3 linked regions of the Homo sapiens genome follow. The protein of the gene in region 2 interacts with the protein of the main gene of each other region in a pairwise test. Each region holds a gene or a part of one and is shown on either strand. Other genes may lie near its edges.

What was found.
Region 1: the proteins of TCP11L1 (region 2) and ERCC6L2 interact in binary tests that used the Homo sapiens proteins (3 or more experiments, as listed by UniProt).
Region 3: the proteins of TCP11L1 (region 2) and WWTR1 interact in binary tests that used the Homo sapiens proteins (3 or more experiments, as listed by UniProt).

What each region holds. Positions count from the first base shown.
Region 1 is NC_000009.12:96,011,471-96,019,051, reverse strand, and holds the end of ERCC6L2 (DNA excision repair protein ERCC-6-like 2), read right to left. Parts: intron 6,828-7,581; coding exon 5,849-6,827; 3' UTR 605-5,848; downstream 1-604. UniProt on the Homo sapiens protein: Promotes double-strand break (DSB) end-joining and facilitates programmed recombination by controlling how DNA ends are joined in a spatially oriented manner during repair.
Region 2 is NC_000011.10:33,042,167-33,049,747, reverse strand, and holds part of TCP11L1 (T-complex protein 11-like protein 1), read right to left. Parts: intron 5,999-7,581; 5' UTR 5,975-5,998; coding exon 5,812-5,974; intron 1-5,811.
Region 3 is NC_000003.12:149,516,647-149,522,518, forward strand, and holds the end of WWTR1 (WW domain-containing transcription regulator protein 1), read right to left. Parts: intron 4,344-5,872; coding exon 4,159-4,343; 3' UTR 589-4,158; downstream 1-588. UniProt on the Homo sapiens protein: Transcriptional coactivator which acts as a downstream regulatory target in the Hippo signaling pathway that plays a pivotal role in organ size control and tumor suppression by restricting proliferation and promoting apoptosis.

The sequences.
Region 1 (7,581 bases), on a different chromosome or scaffold from region 2:
CTGCACACGCATTTTTCCCCCTGCCAGATAAACTGAAACAACATAAAGTGAGTTTTAGTTATTTCTTTCAACGAGACTGCGAGGCCTATTTAGCTAACGAAAAAGATATCTGTAGAAAGAAGCATTCTTGATTCTTATCTACAAGACAGAGCAGCAAAAAACCAAGAATGTCAGATGAGTATTATCTCTGTCCATGGCAGAAAGGTATCATGTTGGTATAATTAAGATTGGTCTTAATGGAAACTTAGGCAATAAATATAAACATCATAGTTTAACCTGCAGCAAAGCAAATAAAATACATGAAATATAATAGAAAAACAATGCAGGCAAAGGCAGGCAGATTGCTTGAGTCCAGAAGTTCGAGACCAGACCTGGGCAACATGGCGAAACCCTGTCTCTAAAAAAAAAAAAAAAAATGCAAAAATTAGCCGGGCAGGGTGGTGCACATCTGTGGTCCCAGCTACTTGGGAGGCTGAGGTGGGAAGATCCCTTGATCCTGGGAGGTCGAGGCTGCAGTGAGCTATGATTGCGCCATTGCACTCCAACCTAGGTGACAGAGTGAGACTCTGTCTTACAAAAAAAGAAAAACAATGCTATGTGTGAATTTTTTTCCAATCTTTTAATAAGGAAAATGTTTTTTTCAAAATAATGGCTTATATGGAGTGTCAACATAAAAACAATATAATTTCAAATTGATAAGTAAAATATAGTCAGCAATCTCACATACATCAAAATTTGGTATATAACACACATTCTGGAGAGGTGTTGCTTTTGGTCTTACTTTTTTTCCATTTTTAAAATTGTAAAACACATACAAAATTTAGCATTTTAATGACTTTTAAGTGTACACTTCAGTGTCATTAAATTCACATTGCTGTGCAACCATCACGACCATCCATCTTCAGGCCACTTTGCATCCTGTGTAACAGAAACTCTACACCCATTAATAACTCCCCTTTCTCCCCTCCCTCCAGCGTCTAGCAACCACCATTCTACTTTGTCTCTATGAATCTGACTAATCTAGGTACTTTATATAAGTGGAATCATACAGTATTTGTCCTTCTGTGTCTGATTTATTTCACTTTGCATACCGTCCTCAAGATTCATCTATGTTGTAGCACGTGTCCGAATTTCCTTTCAAGGCTGAATAATATTCCTGTGTGTGTAATATTTTGCTTATTCATCGATAGGTACTTGGAATGCTTTCTTCGTGTTGTAGCCATTGTGAATAATGCCACTATGAACACAGATGTTCAAATATGCGTGGACATTTTTATAGGAATGTAACAACAACAAAAAGCACACAGTGGGCTCCATCATGAGCTCAGCTGCATACAGAGATGGGGGGCGCTGGAAGTCGTGGTGGGGCAACTGAAGCACCTCTCTGGAAATACTGTGTCCCAGGGGGACAGAAGGTCAGGCAGGTGGGTCCTGCCCAGGGACAAACCTGACAATCACTGGCACATCAGAATTCCTGTGAAACTGCAAAAACAAAAAGGGTGCCTGTGCTGAGCCCTAGACCCCCTGATTCAGTCTCTTGATGAGGACCCTGGACATGTGCATGCTTAAAAGCCTCTCCGGAGGTTCTGACTTGCTACCCTTGGGGCTGGGAACCACACAGCCTGGGACTTGGGAAGGAAGGGCGAATCTGTCTTTCCTCCTAGGGGCAGAGAGTAACTATCAGATGCACTGTTTTCCTAGAGAAACCCTGCAAGACCCTGAGGCAAAATAGCTCTCCTGGGGTGGCCCTTTAGCCAAGCAAAAGTGAGATGTTCTTCCCTCCTGCAACAAATACCAAGTGGAGCCAGCCGTACATGCCACAGTGTACAGGGGCTGTCACCAAGAGGAAAGTGGCTTATGAACCATCCCAGTAAGGCCTCCTAGAAGCACTGGGCAGAGGATGCTTTGCAATCTCTGGTGGAAGATGAAACCAGAAACAAGTCTGTATCCGTGATGATGGAATGAGCAGCAGGCAAGGAGCCTAGAAAGTGATGGGCACTCTTGCTCTTTGAAGGTGTGTGCCTGTCATTGGGGCTGACAGGTTCAGTGACATCCTCGGTGAGGCCTAGATCCTAGATCCACTGTTAGCTGGATTTGTGACATAAAAATCCTTCACATGCAAACAAACAAACAAACAAACACACAAAAAAACCTTTAAGGCAGGCAGTGATCCCCATTCCTTTGGATTTTATAGACCAGTAAGTGTCAAATAAAACTTCTGGGACTGACATATGATTACCAACTTTTATGTAAGGACAATGAAAAAGACCAAAAGGTATGATCTACCATCATTTCAAAAAAGAGGGCTATTTTGATATCATAAAAGAAGGATAACTTCAGAATTTAAAAGCGTACACATTGAACTTTAATTAGAAAATAACCGTGTATTTCCTGTGGCTTTCTCATTTTCTGTGGAAGGATGAAAAGTTTATCATCATCTCTGCAAACTAAGGCTTCTTTGCCTTGAATACTTAGGGGCAGCTGCACCATTTGCAGATGTTATTTATTTCCTTGAAGAGGTGTTTTCAGGGCTGTAAGAGAACCCTGAGGAATTCAAGTGCAAAAATCTCTTGGTATCTTGCCTCAGTTTCCAATATTAATAGCTGTGTGGTGAGTGTTCAGCCAGAAACGGTATCATTGCTTAAGTAAAAAAGATTGTGGCAAGTAGCATCATGGAAACAAAGTTGAAAGGTTTTCTTAGAAATGATCTCATCTCTGTGGTTTTCAAATTAGTGCTCCATGGAGCCACAGTGGTGTTGCTTGAAGCAACAGACTTGCATTTTAATTGTTTTACTAGTTAAGTTTCTGATTAAGATACAGTTCAGTTGCTTTAAGAAAATGGCTGACCACCACTGATCTAATCCATCACCAATTTAAAGGGGAAACTAAGGCTAAAAGGAGGTAAGGGATTTGCTTGAGGCCACCCATTTAGTTAGCAGAACTTGGTGACACATCACCAGTGGAGTGGGGGTAGGAAGGATCTTGTCAAACCTTCCTAGTGTCTGTTCTCAGGTCATCAATGGTTGTACCAAATCTTTCCATCACTCCATTGCAGGGAGTCCACTCCACCTGACAGTTTCCGTTCTGAAACAGGCTCCTTTTCATACTGGACTCTGCATTCCACCTGACACACTTTCCTACATAATAGTGATAAATATTTCACTGACAACTGTTGGAAACTAATTTTTAAACTCCAGTTCTGCATTTTTGCTCCCATTTTGACTACTATTGATAAAAGTTTCCTTTTTTGAGATGGAGTCTTGCTCTGTCACCCAGGCTGGGGTGCAGGGGCACAATCCTGGCTCACTGCAAGCTCTGCCTCCCAGGTTCACGCCATTCTCCTGCCTCAGCCTCCCGAGTAGCTGGGACTACAGGCGCCCACCACCACGCCTGGCTAATTTTTGTATTTTTTTTTTTTTTAGTAGAGACGGGGTTTCACCGCGTTAGCCAGGATAGTCTCGATCTCATGACCTTGTGATCCGCCTGCCTCGGCCTCCCAAAGTGCTGGGATTACAGGCGTGAGCCACTGTGCCCGGCCTAAAAGTTTCTTTAATAGCATTTATTGGCTGGGCATGGTGGCTCACACCTGTAATCCCAGCACTTTGGGAGGACAAGGCAGGTGGATCGCTTGCAGCCAGGAGATTGAGACCAGCCTGGCCAACATGGTGAAACCCCATCCCTACTAAAAACACAAAAAAATTAGCTGGGCGTGGTGGCACGCACCTGTAGTCCCAGCTACTCGGGAGGCTGAGGCAGGAGAATTGCTTGACTCGGGGGGCGGAGGCTGCAGTGAGCCAAGATCGAGCCACTGCACTCCAGCCTGGCGACAGAGTGAGACTCCGTCTCAAAAAAAAAAAAAAATGTTTAGCTGAGTGTGGTGGTACACACCTGTAATCCTAGCTACTCAGGAGGCTGAGGCATAAGAGTTGTTTGGGAGGGAGGTGGAGGTTGCAGTGAGCCAAGATCATGCCACTGTACTCCAGCCTGGGTGACAGAGTGAGACTCAATCTCAAAAAAAAAAAAAAAAAAAAAAAAACTGTACATATATGAAGACTATAGAGCTAATATTTATATGAATATCATAATTTACAAGGTATTAAAATGTTTGAACTACATTGTCTTGTATATAAACTGAAATGAAGTGGTATCTACTTACTGGAGTTCCTCAGATAGCTGATCACATTGTAGGCTGAAAACATCTACAAGTCAAGTCTATCAAGGACCATATCATGCACTCATTGTGTAGAAGGCCCCTCAATGGCAAAACATACCATCTGGTAAGTCTGGACACAACTCAGCTGCACAGAGCAAACAAATGACGAACTCATATAATTTAAAACAGCGTTTTCACACTGTGGATCTTAACCATGGGCCATGAAATTCAATTCAGTGGGTTGTGAGAGGATTAACACACACACAAACCCACTGCCCTACCAAACACAATCCTAGAAGAGAAAAATGTCAAAGTATGTTACATGGCTTATGAGTAAATATTTCATAAACATTTTATTCCAATCATATATGTACGAACACATATGTACTGAGTCATGACATAAATTTTACAATTCTCTAGGGCAAAACATTGCTCTAAAGAAAAGCATACTTGGCCGATCAGTCCCTTGAGAAGACTTTTGTTTTTGATTTTTTGTTCACTTCTGAGCAATGACTCTACATCCTGAGTACACGGAAGCCCTCTCTCCTCAACTTGATAGCAGTGCTCTTTAGCACAGCCAGTTCCCGGCTCAGGCTGTTTTCTGGAGGGATGTGTCCTCCTCTTGCAGCCCTGTGAACTAACTGAAGGACAGCTGCAGCGGTGCATCTGAACCTGCAGCGGAGGCAGCTCAGGTCCTGCCTACAGCATGCACATGTGATGCCAGGGGCTTTCCACCATGATTTTTCACTGACATGATTTCCTTTCATTCACCGGTAGCTCTGCCTTACCTGTAGAGCTCAAGCTCCTAGCACAGAACACAGGGGCTGAGTAAAGGCTTCTAAATACATGCATTCAACAATAAGCACATTCATTTTGCTATAAACCATAAATATTACACTCAAAATATAACAGTTTCTAACAAAATAAAAAGTTTACCCATTTCTTCATACTTAAGAACTACAAAAGTACTATACAAACCTTTATTTACATTAAATCACAATAGGTACATAAAAAGTTGAGGCACTGGTATCTGTGGCTAATGGTAGTAATCACAGCTCATATAGTAAAGTGTATAACATTAACCTTTTAATTTTGAGCTGTTGCAAAATTACCATTTTAATATTATATATACCATATATTCAGTACCAATTATGACTTTTTTCTAAAATAATAATAGAACATGATGCCCAGGGAAAAAGAAAATACTTAATAACTTTCCCAAGTGCTAGTAAAAAACACATTGGTATACACCTGATTTGAGGGGCAGACATGATTCAGCCTATGAGCCATTAGGAGAGCGAAGCAAAGCTTTTTTAAACTGGAAGGACACTCATGCTGATTCGGTACAGACTCTTCATCTTTCATACTGGGAAACAATGCTCACCGGGGCAAGTGTCACATCATTATGTAATATAGTAAGAAAGATGTCCCAGGTCTCCTATTAACAAACCTAGAATCTTTTCTAATTCATAACAGAGGTTTATACTATAAATACAATCATATTCTTGAAAGATCAAATCAAATATCAAGAAAAACAGATCCATGACAATACTTTAGACTTCAAAAAATCCTAAAGCAATAATTTAATAAAAATATATGTCAACAACTGTGTTCAAGATAATAGAATCAGTGTGGAATCCAGTGCCGTAAACAGTGATGGCAGCAGTTTACTGGTGCAGTAATTCATTTATATGCTTATGTGGTACTCTGTGTATTGGTTGCGTTTTCATCTGTATCACTTGGGCTAAATTTCTTCCATAAAAATTTCTCATTTGATTTCCAAAGAGAAGTTGCTGGCTCTTCTCTCCTTTTAAAGGGTGCTGCTAGAGGTGCTTTTTCACACAGAGTCTCTATTACTGCCAAGTCTGTGAGTTTACTAAGACTCTCATCATTCTGCTCATTCAAGATGTCCCAGAAATCTTTTGGTCTCTGTTTTGCTTTTTCCATGGGCCCTGAAAGAACTTTCTTTGGCAGTTGTGTGGGACTGTTCCCATGACTTTTAAAAAGGTCATCAAGAATAGAGGTATCACCAAGTAAGCTTATCACAGAAGTATTTTCCAGCACTGGATTTTCTATCTTTTTGTTTTCCAATTTGAGAAGGGGTTCTTTTCTTGAAATGCCCGTTCTTGTGAGGTCCTGTTGGTCTTTCATGGTATTTTCTAACCTTCTCTCACGTGTTTCAGACTCACTGTTCAGAGAACGGGATGTCACAGTATCTTCGGATGCCTGGCTGTTTTTCCCACTGTCAATCTCTTGAGTAGAACTAACAGGTGATTTCTTAGTTTCTGCATCATTAAAAAACACCTCTTCTCTATAGGAAATATGATTCTGAAACTTAACTGATTTTCTTTTATATGTTTTTAGGCTGCAAACTTGAGAAATTTTGTTGGTAGAATCTTTAAATGACAAGGTTTCAGAATCTGACAGCCTTGGTTTTATAAGAGATTCTCTTTTATCAGATTTCTTCCGGGTGCGCTGCTCTCCTTTCTCAAAGGAAGAATTGTTGAATTGTGACACAGAATCCACAAAAAATTCTTTTACCTCTGGATATTGAGAAGCATAAAAGTCTCTTAGCATTTTCTGTCGTTCTTCTGATGTGGCATTGGTTATATGTTTAGCAAATTCGTTTACAGAAGACGAGTTAAAATAAGAGGCCATTTCTTCAAATTGTTTTCTAAAGATTAAATGAACAAAACTAGTGGTTATTTTCATTACATTTTATTTTGAAAGAACTCATCACCAGTAAGAGGAAATGTAGAGTCCACAGAAGGTAATCTTGTTCCTTTAGCATACGTCTGCTGAATTCCACAATGAAAACGCATTTTATCCTAGTAGAGTGAGGCCTCTACCCTTATGCTACTGAGAAAAGTATTTTAGCTCACAAAATCACCAGCTTTGTAAGTTATTTTGATTTATGCTATTATATTAGGTATTTCCTGGGAATTATGGAGGCCCAGCATGCTACTCCTCCTTTGAGCCAATTTATGACTGACATGAGGATCATGATTTATAGACTCTGTACTTGAAAATCTATATTGTATTCAAGTCTCATGAAATGAAATTGTCAAAGAATCTTAACGAAAAGAGCAAATTCTGAAAAATTAAGAAAGACATTTTTTTCCCTTCCCTCTCCTTTTCCCCTTCTTTTACAAATACAACATAGAAATCGCACAAGACTTTTTGATGAGCCCAAAGGAAAGTTCTAAACTGATAAACCTAGACTATTTTTTCCCCAGTTGGCATGGACACCTAAGCTAAGGAGTGAGATGCTATTAGAAGAAATGTGTTGTATTCTTAGTGTAAGATACTAATAAAAGCTGTTGTATGCATGTATGAGGAAATGGGCCTTCAAGAACCTTGGTAAGATAGAGGCAGAAAGATTTAGGGACCTGGGCAATGAGCCCTGCTCCTTTCCCTAAATGAGGGTG
Region 2 (7,581 bases):
ACCCAATTGTATGTTCTATTTACTAAGATAGGAGAAAACTGCCTTAGGGCTGGAGGTGAGGTGCTAGCGGCAATACTGCTCTTTAATGCACCCAGAAGTTTGTATCCGTGCACATCAAGGCACAGTACCTTTCCTTAAACTTATTTATGACACAGAGACCTTTGTTCACAGGTTTCCTGCTGACCCTCTCCCCACTATTACACTATTGTCCTGCCACAACCCCCTCTCCAAGATGGTAGAGATAATGATCAATAAATACTGAGGGAACTCAGAGACAGGGTGCAGGTCCCCTGGGCCCACTTTTCTTTCTCTATACTTTGTCTCTGTGTCTTATTTCTTTTCTCAGTCTCTCGTCCCACATGACGAGAAACACCCACAGGTTGTGGAGGGGCAGGCCACCCCTTCAAAAATAATCAATGTCTTACCATCTGAAATTTATGAAAACAACAGAAATACATCACATCAAGTCCTCTGGGTGAATTTTTTTTTTTTTTTTTTTGAGACGGAGTCTTGCTCTGTCACGAGGCTGGAGTGCAGTGGCGCGATCTCGGCTCACTGCAACCTCCGCCTCCCGGGTTCAAGTGATTCTCCTGCCTCAGCCTCCCAAGTAGCTGGGACTACAGGCGTGTGCCACCACACCCAGCTAATTTATGTATTTTTAGTAGAGACAGGGTTTCACCATGTTGGCCAGGATGGTCTTGATCTCTTGACCTCATGATCCACCTGCCTTGGCCTCCCAAAGTGCTGGGATTATAGGCATGAGCCACCGCGCCTGGCCGGATTTGTTATTTCCCAATAATTTTAGTCATCTGGGTAATAATAGGCACCGTTACTATGCTGCCTAGTCATGAAACACAGTGGCTGGAGCAAATCAGGAAGGAATTTCACTTCCTCTGGACTCTGTTGAGTACGGCCTTGAACAAGTCACTTAAATCTTGCAGGGTCAGTGTTTCTCCATATGCAAAAAGAAGAGACTTAAGGGTGTGCTATGAAATATAAGAATCCTCCGAATTTTAAACAAGTGCATTCTCAGTGTTTTGGGCATACTTGGAAAAAAACAGCTTGCACCAAGTACTAAGAACCTCACCATTAGGAAGAAGAAAATTTTCAGGAACTGTCCAAGTTAAGAGACTACTTAAAATCAAACTTATCAATGACAGGTATCTGATCATGATAGATAAAAGCTACAGTTCTAAGATATGATCAGGACATGTTACCGATGTACATACAGAGGAATTATTCACTGCATACAAATTATAGGGTTGTGGGGATTTTGTTTTGTGAGAGTTCTCAAATTTACCAATTTCATAAATGAAAACTTGGTAAGGATTGCATAAAATTGCATAAAGATGCAATTTGGTGGACAACACGTCTTCACCTCAATTTGTTAAGAGAACCTGGGTTGTAATAAGAGCCATGAAAAATGGTAAGGTCAACTCAGACATGGTGGTGCACACTTGTAGTCTCAGCTACTAGGGAGGTTGAGGTGGGTGAATCACTTGAGCCCAGGAGTTCAAGGCCAGCCTGGGCAACATAGAGTGATCCGGTCTTAAAAAAAAAAAATGTAAAGATACATGTAACTTACCCTGGAGTTTATCTTACGTGATACAAAGCTAAAGTTGTTGCTAAATTTTGTTATTTTGTTACAGCATTTGCGCACTGATGCCCTGTTAGAGAAACTGAAAACCATATTAGGTTAAACATGACTTTAGAGAGGCTGGCAGACAGATTCCAAAATAAAATGAAGTTCTAATTTAGAATGGTTGTACTCTCTATCTTTACTAAGGTGTCCTGAGATGCCTATACACTCTGAAAAGATGCTGTTAGTTACATAAGTGGACGGACATTTATGGAGGGCAAGATTGCAACTGTCACCCAAACAGCTACTATAGAATGAGCACAGTAAAACCAGGGTACAGATTACCCATAGTACTTATTATGTTGTTGGAAACTGCTTGTTAATTTGTCTTCCTGGTCGCTAGCCTGCAAGCTCCATGAGGACAGAGACAATATGTGCCTGGTTCACTGCTGGATCCCTGACATACAGTATGCACTCAATAAATATTTGACTGACTGAATACAGAGACACCATAATTCAAAGTCTAGTCATGAGCTTTAGAAATGTAAGTTCTCGTGTCATCTATTCATCTAAAGATGACTGGGATCTACTAATTAAATTCACAAGGACCTGATCCAATAAACAAAGGTCCTAAGTGGGAGATATTAACTGGAATAACAATTGATGTTTGTCATCTGAATATAGCATCTTTTACTGGTCAACTAGGTGATTAAACGTTAGAACAGAGGGTATTTTGTGAGAAGAGCATTAAAGTATAAGTAGTAGAAGATTTTAGAGAAAACATTGTTAAGTTACAGTTGACTGATCCTTACTCTGTTTAAAGAACAGATAATCTTTTACAATCAAATCACCACCTCAAATCAGTACCAATAAATTTTTTACAAGCCAGCCATTTTTCCTTTTTCAATATTCTGCATCGGTTACATCAGAATTCTACTCTTTTTTTTTTTTTCTTGAGATGAAGTTTCGCTCTTGTCCCCTAGGCTGGAGTGCAATGGCACAATCTCGGTTCACTGCAACCTCTGCTTCCCAGGTTCAAGTGATTCTCTTGCCTCAGCCTCCCAATTACAGGCACACACCACCACTCCCGGCTAATTTTTGTATTTTTAGTAGAAACAGTGTTTCACCATGTTGGCCAGGTTGGTCTCGAACTCCTGACCTCACCTCAGGTGATTCACCTGCCTCAGCCTCCCAAAGTGCTTATAGGCATGAGCCAATGCGCCTGGCCTAGCAACTCCACTCTTAAAGTATTACTCTGTGTTATAATTTAAAACAATAAATGTTCTCTTTTTGCTACTTACGTTTTAATTTGTAGAATTCCAAATATGATTTTAGAGTTACTTTAAACTCAGTAGCTACAAATTTACAGAGTTTGGGGGAAATGTCTGTAAACTGTTAATTCCATATTTTGTAAATCCTTATTTATGCTCTATGTGTTCAATAATGCTTCCTTACCTGATGCCCAGATAATGAGGTCTTAGCTTTATCTTTTGGGTTTATAGCCCTGTACCTACCTAGCACTACAGGAGAAATAGGAAGGCAGCCAAAAGGAATACCTTAGGGCATTGATTTTAAACCTTATTTTGGTACAGACTACTAAGAGAACTTAATGAAAGCTTCCACGACCTTATTCCTAAAAACATGCATATACAAACAAATGTTGATATACTTTTTTGGTTATTACTAGATCCCCTAAATCTTGATCATAGGTCCCAGGATAAGTATTCTTGCCTTAAGGGCATAACTACACACAATTTCAGATAATGTAGCTTAGTACTGGTTTGACATTAATTTGGAATCATGCCATCAGGCTGACAAGATGCCAAAGGCGAAGCCATCAACCAAAGAATGGCTGAACCTATAAAAGTTAAAATTGTTTAAAAAAATTAAAACCAATCAACCAACTGTTGGGAGAAGCTAAAGCAGGGCTTGCATGTCTCACTTAATGTAAAAGAGTCTTGGAACATGTCCAGGGTCCAGGGTCTAAAACCCCTCATGGCCTTGGGAACACCAAGCTCTGTGCTAAAGGGCAGAAGGCTGCCCTGCAGCACCATAATCTAAGCCCAGGGCATAAAACCCTTCGTGGCTTGAATGGAATCCAGGGCTCAGGGCGTGGCCTCTGGAATGTGTCTAGACTTGCTGGCTCCTTGCTTCTAGCACTCCTAGGCTCATAGATCTATTGTATCTTAAACTAGAACATGTTTCCCATTATCTCAAGTAGCAGAACATGTTCCATATGCTGCAAAGAAAATGCTAAACCGTCACAGCTGTAGATCATGTGCTTGATACACTGCTTTCTTTCAACCCCCACATCCTCACCACCTGCTTCTTTGTTTCATCACCAATGAATAGTGCAGGCTTCCAGAGCTCGGGGCCTTCGCAGCCTCCATACTAGCATTGGCCCCCGGACCCACTTTATGCACTCTTAAACTTGTCTTTTTCATTCTTTTGACTCCACTGGACTTCGTCACCTCCACGTTGGGTCTGGCCATCCCAACAACCAACCAACCAATAAAGGGTGACTGAAGACCTAAACCAAAAGTTCTTCTTTAGCAGAAACTATAGGTTGTAAAGCTATCATGTTAGCCATATACATCTACATTACAGCAATCAATCCTGGCCTCTTTATTTTTTTTATTTTTATTTTTTTGAGAGAGGCTTGTCTCACTCTGTCATCCAGGCTGGAGTGCGGTGACACAATCACGGCTCACTGCAGCCTTGACTTCCCCAGCTCAAGTGATCCTCCTGTCCCCGCCTCCCAAGTAGCTGGGACTACAACCACGTGCATGCTCAGCTAATTTTTTTTTTTTTTTTTTGAGACAGGGTCTTACTTTGTCACCCAGACGGGAGTGCAGTGGCGTGATCTCGGCTCACTGCAGCCTCCACCTCCCAGGCTCAAGTGATCCTCCTGCCTTAGCCCCACAAGTAGCTGGGACTATAGGCATGCACCACCATGCCTGGCTAATTTTTATTTTTTGTAGAGATGGGGTCTCATTATGTTGCCTAGGCTGGTCTTGAACTCCTGGACTCAAGTGATCTTCCTGCCTCAGCCGCCCAAAGTGCTGGTATTACAGGTATGAGCCACCATGCCTGGCCAATCCTGGCATCTTTAAATGCAATAGATGACATAATGTTAGTAGCAATAGTAGTAACAACAACTAATGTTTATTAAGCATTTATTACCTGTGAAGCACTGTTCTAAGTGCCTTATAGGAATTCATTTAATCTTTACTGCTACCCCAAGAAATATTGTATTTTCCTCATTTTAAAGACAGGAAAACAGAAGCTTTCTAACTACACATATTGGAGTCAGGCCTGACAAATGCATGATAGACTGTGCTAGCAACAACATGTTTCCTTGGACACAATTTGACCTAATAGTTGATTTATTAAAATCTATGTGATAATAAATCAGAATAAAATAGGGTCCATTAATGTTTGCTAGAAGAATAGTATGTTGACTAATAAATTGCCCGGGAAGGGCTTTGATCATTTTAGAAGAAACACACCCCAAAACCCAAAAATGTCTGTACTTTTTCCAAATACGTACAACTACTGATCATCTACAATTTAAAGGGATAACATCAATACCGACATTCTTAGACTATGACATTCCCTCTTAAAAACTTGCATTTTTGGACTCACTTCAAAATGCTTAAGGTACTCTTCATAAAAGACGTGAGTTGAGGCAACCACTGGGAATGCCTGAAGATATTGCCACCCTTTCATTTAAGAGGCTTGCTCCTTGCCAGGGATCTGAAATGACTTCACCACACACATTTAGCAAACTGAATCCCCTCAAGCTTGTGGGAACTAAGCCCCCAGGCAGAGAATTAGGGTGTGGTGAACTTACTCACATTTTTTTTTAACCTGCACAAGCACAGTCCTGGCTGGAATTAGCCTCAGACTTTTCAAACACTCTTTCAATACAAGCTGCAATTTATACTCCACCCTCCTATTTCTCAGAGCACTTCAGAGACTGGAGTGTCACTGAGGCTGGAGAAAGACAGGAACGTTCTGGACATTATTCTAAATTGTTAATTTCCCATGCAATTGAAAATCCACAAGTAGCTAGGCTGCCAGCTGAGGAACTGCTATTATTCCTAAATGCTACATTGGCAATGTTATATTATTAGAACCTAGCTCACGGCCACATGCACAAGGAGGCCTCATAAAACCGTCACCTGAAAACAATGACAATATTGCATCTAACCAAAGTCAAATTTGCTTACAGTGAGGTCTCTGCACTCTTTGGGGGCTGGAGGAGTCTGACTTTATTGCTTTTTGTAAGGCTTCATCAGCACCTTCCACAGCATCTTCGAGGCCTTCCTCAGAATCATTGGATTTTGATTTTCCTGCTTCATTTACATTGGACTTGTCAAGGTTTTCAGACATTCTCAATTAAGTTTATTCACTTTCCTAGGAAAGAAAAAAACAAAAAAAAAGAACTAAAAGTATTCTAGCTCTGTCACCAACTAGCAATGTGACTCAGGGCAAATCATTTAACCTCTTTGGGTTTCAGTTTTCTCGTTTGTAGAATAAATGAGCTTGCTAAGATCTTATCCAGCTATATTCTACTTCAATGACTAAACAGATACTTGTAAAATGACATTTGTAATTTATCAGATTTCTGGATCTCACGTAGTAGTTAGTTGGAATATTTTTGTCCTACTCCTAAGTAGCATGTTTCAAGAATACAGGGCCTTAAACTATTAGAAGACACACTCTAAACTACCTGCTGCTACAATTTTAATCAGTGATTCAATCTTAAATTCTTTACTTTCATTCCTAAGAGCAGATAGGTAAACTCCTTGGAAATAATGCTTTTAATTGGGCTTACAAGTGAATACACTGGGCTAAAGGGTTGATTCCTTGATATTATCATGTGAATAAGATACCCAGAGATGACAGAAACTAGAATTTTTTTTTTTTCCAGATGGAGTTTTGCTCTTGTTGCCCAGGCTGGAGTGCAATGGGGCAATCTCAGCTAACTGCATCCTCCGCCTGCTAGGTTTCAGCAATTCTCCTGCCTCAGCCTCCCAAGTAGCTGAAATTACAGGTGGGTGCCACCACGCCCAGCTAATTTTTGTTTTGTTTTGTTTTGAGACAGAGTTTCGCTCTTTCATCCAGGCTGGAATGCAGTGGTGCGATCTCAGTTTACTGCAACTTCCACCTTCCGGTTTCAAGTGATTCTCCTGCCTCAGCCTTCTGAGTAGCTGGGATTATAGGCGCCCACCACCATGCCTGGCTGATTTTTGTATTTTTAGGAGAGATGGGGCTTCACCATGTTGGCCAGGCTGGTTTCGAACTCCTGACCTCATGATCCACCTGCCCTGGCCTCCCAAAGTGCTGGGATTACAGGCGTGAGCCACTGCGCCTGGCCTAATTTTGTATTTTTAGTAGAGACGGGGTTTCACCATGTTGGTCAGGCTGGTCTCGAACTCCTGACCTCAGGTGATCCACCTGCCTCGGTCTCCCAAAGTACTGGGATTACAGCCATGAGCCACTGCGCCCTACAGAAAACAGAATCTTATGAAATGTTTAAGAGGAATGTGTGGGGCAAATATTTTTATTACCTTCTTGCCAGTAATTAGGAAAAAGATTGTGAGTAAGAAGCTGCAAACAACCATAATGTATGCAGTTGGGTGGGCTTTTTATTAGTTGCTGATCAGAATAGCAATAACACTTGACACTGTGCTTTGGAGCAGTTAATAAAAGGTCTGCCTGGGCCTCCCAAAGTGCTGGGATTACAGGCATGAGCCACCGTGCCCAGCCTAAAACAGGCCTAAAACAGGCGGATCATGAGGTCAAGAGATCGAGACCATCCTGGCTAACACGCTGAAACCCCGTCTCCACTAAAAATATTAAAAAATTGGCCTGGCATGGTGGCGGTGCCTGTAGTCCCAAATACTCAGGAGGCTGAAGCAGGAGAATGGCATGAACCCGGGAGGCAGAGCTTGCAGTGAGCCGAGATCGCACCACTGCACTCCAGCCTGGGCAAC
Region 3 (5,872 bases), on a different chromosome or scaffold from region 2:
TTCATCTTCTATAAACTTTCCATTCACATTATTGATCCATATTTCTATTGGGCTGTTTGTTTTTTCTATTGGTTTATAAGAGTTTGTTGTATATTCTACACCACCATACCTGGCTAATGTTTATATATTTTTGTAGAGACAAGGTCTCACAATGTTACCCAGGCTGGTCTCAAACTGCTGGGCTCAAGCAATGCTCCCGCCTCAGCCTCCCAAATTGCCAGGATTACAGGCATAAGCCATCGTGCCCAGCAAGAATCCTGTATTTTTGATGGTCTTGTCAAATCTGTGAGGGTGTTGGGAGGACAATGATGTGATATATATATATTTAAAGGTATATGTTTTTATTTTTAAAGGTGTATATATACACCTTTAAAAACCTCAGTGGACATTGTAAATAAAGTGGAAACTAGAATTCTGTGAACATTTAGAATGTTGAAGGCCAGGCACGTGAGCCAAGAAATTGTTTGCCTGCAGATTTTTCTTTCTTTCATTGTCTGCCAGGAGGGTTACATAAGCCTGTCTTCAGTACCACCCAAATCCCCTAGTAAAAGGAACACAGACAAATAATGAAAAGTCAAAAGCTCCAAGTGGAAGTTCAATTGTCTTTATTTTTCTTATACAGATTCAGAGAAGTAAAAACCAGTACCAAACTCCAGGTAAAATGGTTTGATCTGATCGATTTGGCTGCATACTTTCGGTACGTATAACATTCTAAACTTAAAATAGAAATTTTTATATTACAAAACGTAGAAGTAAAATTTTAAAAAGTTAAAGTACTAGCACATATATGTGTTAGGAAAATGGTCTCTGTCAATTGCCCATTTTCCCAATTAAATTAACCTACGATTTCCTTTTTTTAACAGCTTATTTTTTTCATAAAAGTTGTACTTTGAGAAGTTACTTTCTAATTACGTCATGAGAACACAACTTGTAATTAGCAACACTTCTGTCAGTCTAGATCACTTCTTCTGCAGAGAGCTTTTCAACCAAGTTGGCATCAACCAGCACAATAAAGTTTTCACTGTTTTACCTGTTTCCTGTATATGGTGTAATCAGTGAAAGAAATGGCATTTCACATCCTAAATAATACGGTGAAACACTGTCTAAAAATTACTTAGATTTAACAGAATTGCAATTAGGTTTTGACAATGTATTTACTTCAAGACAATGTATTTTATCAGGAAAAAATATCTTGAAAGAAAGATCTCTGAAATTATTTTTCATTTGATACGCCTTTTCTGTGACAAAATTTTGGGGTGAAATGATGATGTTTACTGATTGATTTAGTACTAAAAAGACTAGTACTAAGAAGACTAAAGACAGTTATCTTATAATAAGAAATATAGTATAAATAGCACCTTATCAAGAATTCTGCAGGGGTTTTAACACTTACAATAATAGGAAATAGCCATTAAAAAGTTGCTCTAACTTTAGATTTCTAACTTTAGTGTTCTTTAACAAAGGCCATATTTTGTGGCCTTAAAAACAAAAAATTATATCTGGCTTTATCTATTAGTAAACACAAAGGGTCCATATTTTATTCTGAAAAAATATTTATTATATTCATTCATAAATGTTCTAACTAATTTAACTAAAAAAATCTTCTAGTATTTTCTGATGCCACAAGCTTACTAGAAAATTACTTCTAAAAATTGGTAATATAAATCATCAATGATTTACCTACTTTAAAAAAGAGGGGTATCTGTTTCTCTTACATTTAATAACCTGAAAATGAGTCTATAAAAATATTTTTTAAAAATACAGTAACACTGCTGAGTTTTGTTAGGTCCCTTGTTTTTTTAATTTTTTATTTATTTATTTATTTTTAGCAAGAATGTACAATTCTTTTTGCAATTTTTTGCTAACAAAAGACAAAAAGAAATAGTGCTCCCTTCAATTTAGTAGCAATAAAATCATCTATCTTCATCTCTCTCAGAGGGCTTAGGGAGAGTGAAAGGAATTAGAGGAACATAAACCATGGGTCCTTCAGGTAAAATAAGTCATTTCATAGTGATGGAGGCAACAGCAGGCTACGCTCTTGTCTGCCTGTACGCTCAGCATCAGCATGCCCTGCCCCTCCTCCTCCCACATAAGGTGCACCAAAGCCTTCTTTTCTTCTACAACAGAGTCTTCCGGTATAAAGGTGGCAACAGAAAATTGTTGCTTTGTCCTTTTGGGGCATCTCTTGCATCTCCTGCTTGTTTTGCTTTTGGGGTACTATAACTTGTCTCTTTCCATTTCACAACTAGTATCCTTTCCACGATATTCCATAACTTTGCTACTTCATCTCTGACCTTTTCACTTGCCTTCTTTCCAACATGATCCAATGTACTCTGTACATGTATATTCCGGTAGATCAAAAGGAATCTTATTTAAGATCCCCAACAAATAAGTCCCCCATGGAAATTGAAAGTATCCTCTCAGAGACTCAAATTATTAAAGTCTTTCAAAAAAGATTAAATTCATAGATTATAAATAATATTAGTTCAAAATATTAAACAGTTGAGGACTTCATTGGCAATGCAGGCAGACTGCATGCCAGTTGAACATGATGCTCTCTCAGTCCTTAAAAGCTAATTAAAAATGGTTTTGGTTACATAAGAGGTATTGAATACATATTTCATGCCTTTTTATACCAACTGTAGCAAACAGGATTAGGATAATATACTTAGGAATCAATTTTACTGAATTCAGAAACATTTATCTCCACCATACACCCTCAAAGGGCATTTTTTTTTACATGTCAGTCAGAGATCTGCTTCATCCTTCAGTTTCATAGATAGAATTATTTTAAACACTTGAAATCTAGGAAGCAAACCTGACAAGGCTTCAGAATTTAAAAAGCAACAGCTCACTGTGTGTGGTGTGCTATCAGGTTGAAATCTATGTTGTCCTGATGTTTTCAGAGTTATTTCAAAAGACAAAAATACAGTTGCCACTGATTTATCAAAAACATTTGGCTGCCTTTTGTCATCAGCTACAAAATTACAGTGCTTTATAAAATAAACATCAAGGCCGGGTGCGGTGGCTCACGCCAGTAATCCCAGCACTTTGGGAGGCCGAGATGGGTGGATCACCTGAGATCAGGAGTTTGAGAACAGCCTGACCATTATGGTGAAACCCCGTCTCTACTCAAAATACAAAAAATTAGCCGGACGTGGTGGCAGGTGCCTGTAATCCCAGCTACTCGGGAGGCTAAGGCAGGAGAATCGCTTGAACCCAGAAGGCAGAGGTTGCAGTGAGCCGAGATTGTGCCATTGCATTCCAGCCTGGACAACAAGAGCAAAACTCGATCTCAAAAACAAACAAACAACATCAAGAAAAAAAAAAACCATCAGATTCTAAGCTGCAATTTTTTAAATCCCCAGTTGTAATATTTCAAAAACTTTTGTTTGAATAAAATGCTCATAATTAGTACCAAACTGGTCTCTTTCACAAGATCTGTAGTGTAAGACCTGTGACTAATGCTGCTGCTGCTACTTTCCCGCTGGAGGGACTAAGTTGTCTAGATGCTCTGCAGTAAAATAACGAAAGATAAGCTACAATAGGACTGTGTGCCTTTATAAATACAGACTAATAAGAGCCATCAGAGCCAGCATGGATTCAAAATTACATTGTATTCCATACAGTAGAATTTTACTATCCATACAATGATTTTTAAAGCTCAAGTTAAATAGTTTTTAAAGCATTTGGTACTACTGTCATCAATACAGTTTTTGAAACTGTAAATCAGGTCGAATTTTGTGCACATTTCCTGGACCAAGATGCCCTCAGAAGTAACTGCCTGTGGTCAGCTTTTTATGGTTTAAAATCAATTGGTGTATAAATTTCAATTAACACCCATAAAGCTTAGCCATGGGGCAGCAGAGAAGAAAGAGAAAAGTATTCTGCATAATCAATCCTGCAGACACAATTCTGTATAATCTGTCACAAGAACGCAGGCTTGCAGAAAATGAAAATAGAATATTTATTTATGTTTAACTTAAGTTACTCTCAATCAAAACCAGGCAATGATTAAACTGGCAACATAAAAAGGAGGGAGCACGAGTCATGGAGGCGGGAAGTGGTGCACCTGCAGACTTGCTCTGCTCCATCACTTTTTCCAAGAGGCCCAGGAAATGTAAGGTCATGGCTACATCCAAGTTACAATGGTAGTGATTACAGCCAGGTTAGAAAGGGCTCACTTTTGTTCAGAGCAGACTCTACATCATTGAAGAGGGGGATCAGGTCTTCAGATTCCAAAGTTCCTAAGTCAACGTTTGTTCCTGGAAGACAGTCAAGGAAATCAGGGAAACGGGTCTGTTGGGGATTGATGTTCATGGGTGTTTGTCCTGCGTTTTCTCCTATAACAAAATGAAAAGAAACCATTTTAATTCCTTCTTTTAGGCTCTTGAAGGAGGAACAGTTCAAGTATTTACATAACCCTCACCTTCATGTCTTCAACTACCACATTATTGACCCTTACTCATAAGAGGTACAGAGATGTGGAAGAAATCGAAAATTATTTCTGGATAGGTGTGGTCCAGAATGGAAAAGGCCAAGGAGATAAGAAAGGAGCATGTGAAAGGCACTGTGGATCTGATCTATGATCTGTGCCTTCCCATGACAAAGGTGTGAAGAACTGTTTTACAAAAGAGTAGAGAGGCCTTGTCTGTAATAAACAGCTTATTACAGAACTATAATCTACAGGTTTCATTGTAAGCTTAGGTTTACCCATACCATCCTTCTTTATGTTCAAAGAGAATGGTGTGAAGCTTCTTTTAACCAGGCTATTAAAAAGTTGTCTTCATTGATGACTTTAGGCATCATTTATAAAGGCAGTTCTGCAGACGTTTTCCCTCTTTCTGTAATACCTACACCCTACAACTATCTGCCTTTCTCACAAGCATATGAGCACAGTGCATATGAGCATGTTAAGGCTTTAAGTCTTAGAGTAAAGAAATCTTTTGTTTTCTTTAAGACACTATTTCCTAAACCCATTTAATCACCTAAACCTATTTTGGCAGTATGTGTATTCAAATAAAACTGAAGTTCTACAGAACACAGGTGAGAAAATGCTGTACTAGAGGAAAAGTAGGTGTCTGGGATATGACATGAAGAATATAGGTTCTTTATGTGTCATAGTATGGGACAGAATGCACTACTGACTTTGGTGTCATTAGATCGAGCTTTGTGGCTGTGTAAGCTTAGACACACTTAACCTGCCTGATTCTCAGTTTACCCATCTAGAAATTGGGATCATATGCTCCTTTTACAAAAGTTAGAGTAAAGTGCCATATAGTGTCTGCCACATATCCATGGCTCTGGGTGTCATTGATATATACAAAGTTATATACATACAAAAATATAATAAATGTTCATTGTCCTGAGAGAAAGAAAAACCCAGGTCTTCAGCCACTATTAATTACACAATATCAAAACAACAGGTTAATTCAAAAAGTCCCAAACAATTTTCTGAAGAGATAATATCTACTTCAAAAATTGAGAAGCATTGATAACTAAGGCCAGCTTCCACCATAACGTCATTTTTTAAAAACTTGTTAAATTATCTTTTGTGTGTTACAAGTGCAGTAGCCTTCCTGAAACGTGTGTAGGGAAGTTTCACTATTTTAAGCAAAATTGCCGAAAGTTCACTTTAGCAATCTGTGTTTTCCAGGGAGAAAAATTATATCCTTCCAAATGATGAAGGAACCATCATCCAATTTGGATTTTGGTGATAGCAAAACACAATGGCTTTTCTAGAAGTCACAAAATATAAATGACTCCTGGGTAACATTTTACAGTATTTTCATTGCAAAGGGTAGTAAACTGAAAAATTAAATCAAATTCAACAATATGACCTCAATATAGTGTTACTGATATTGAAAAATAA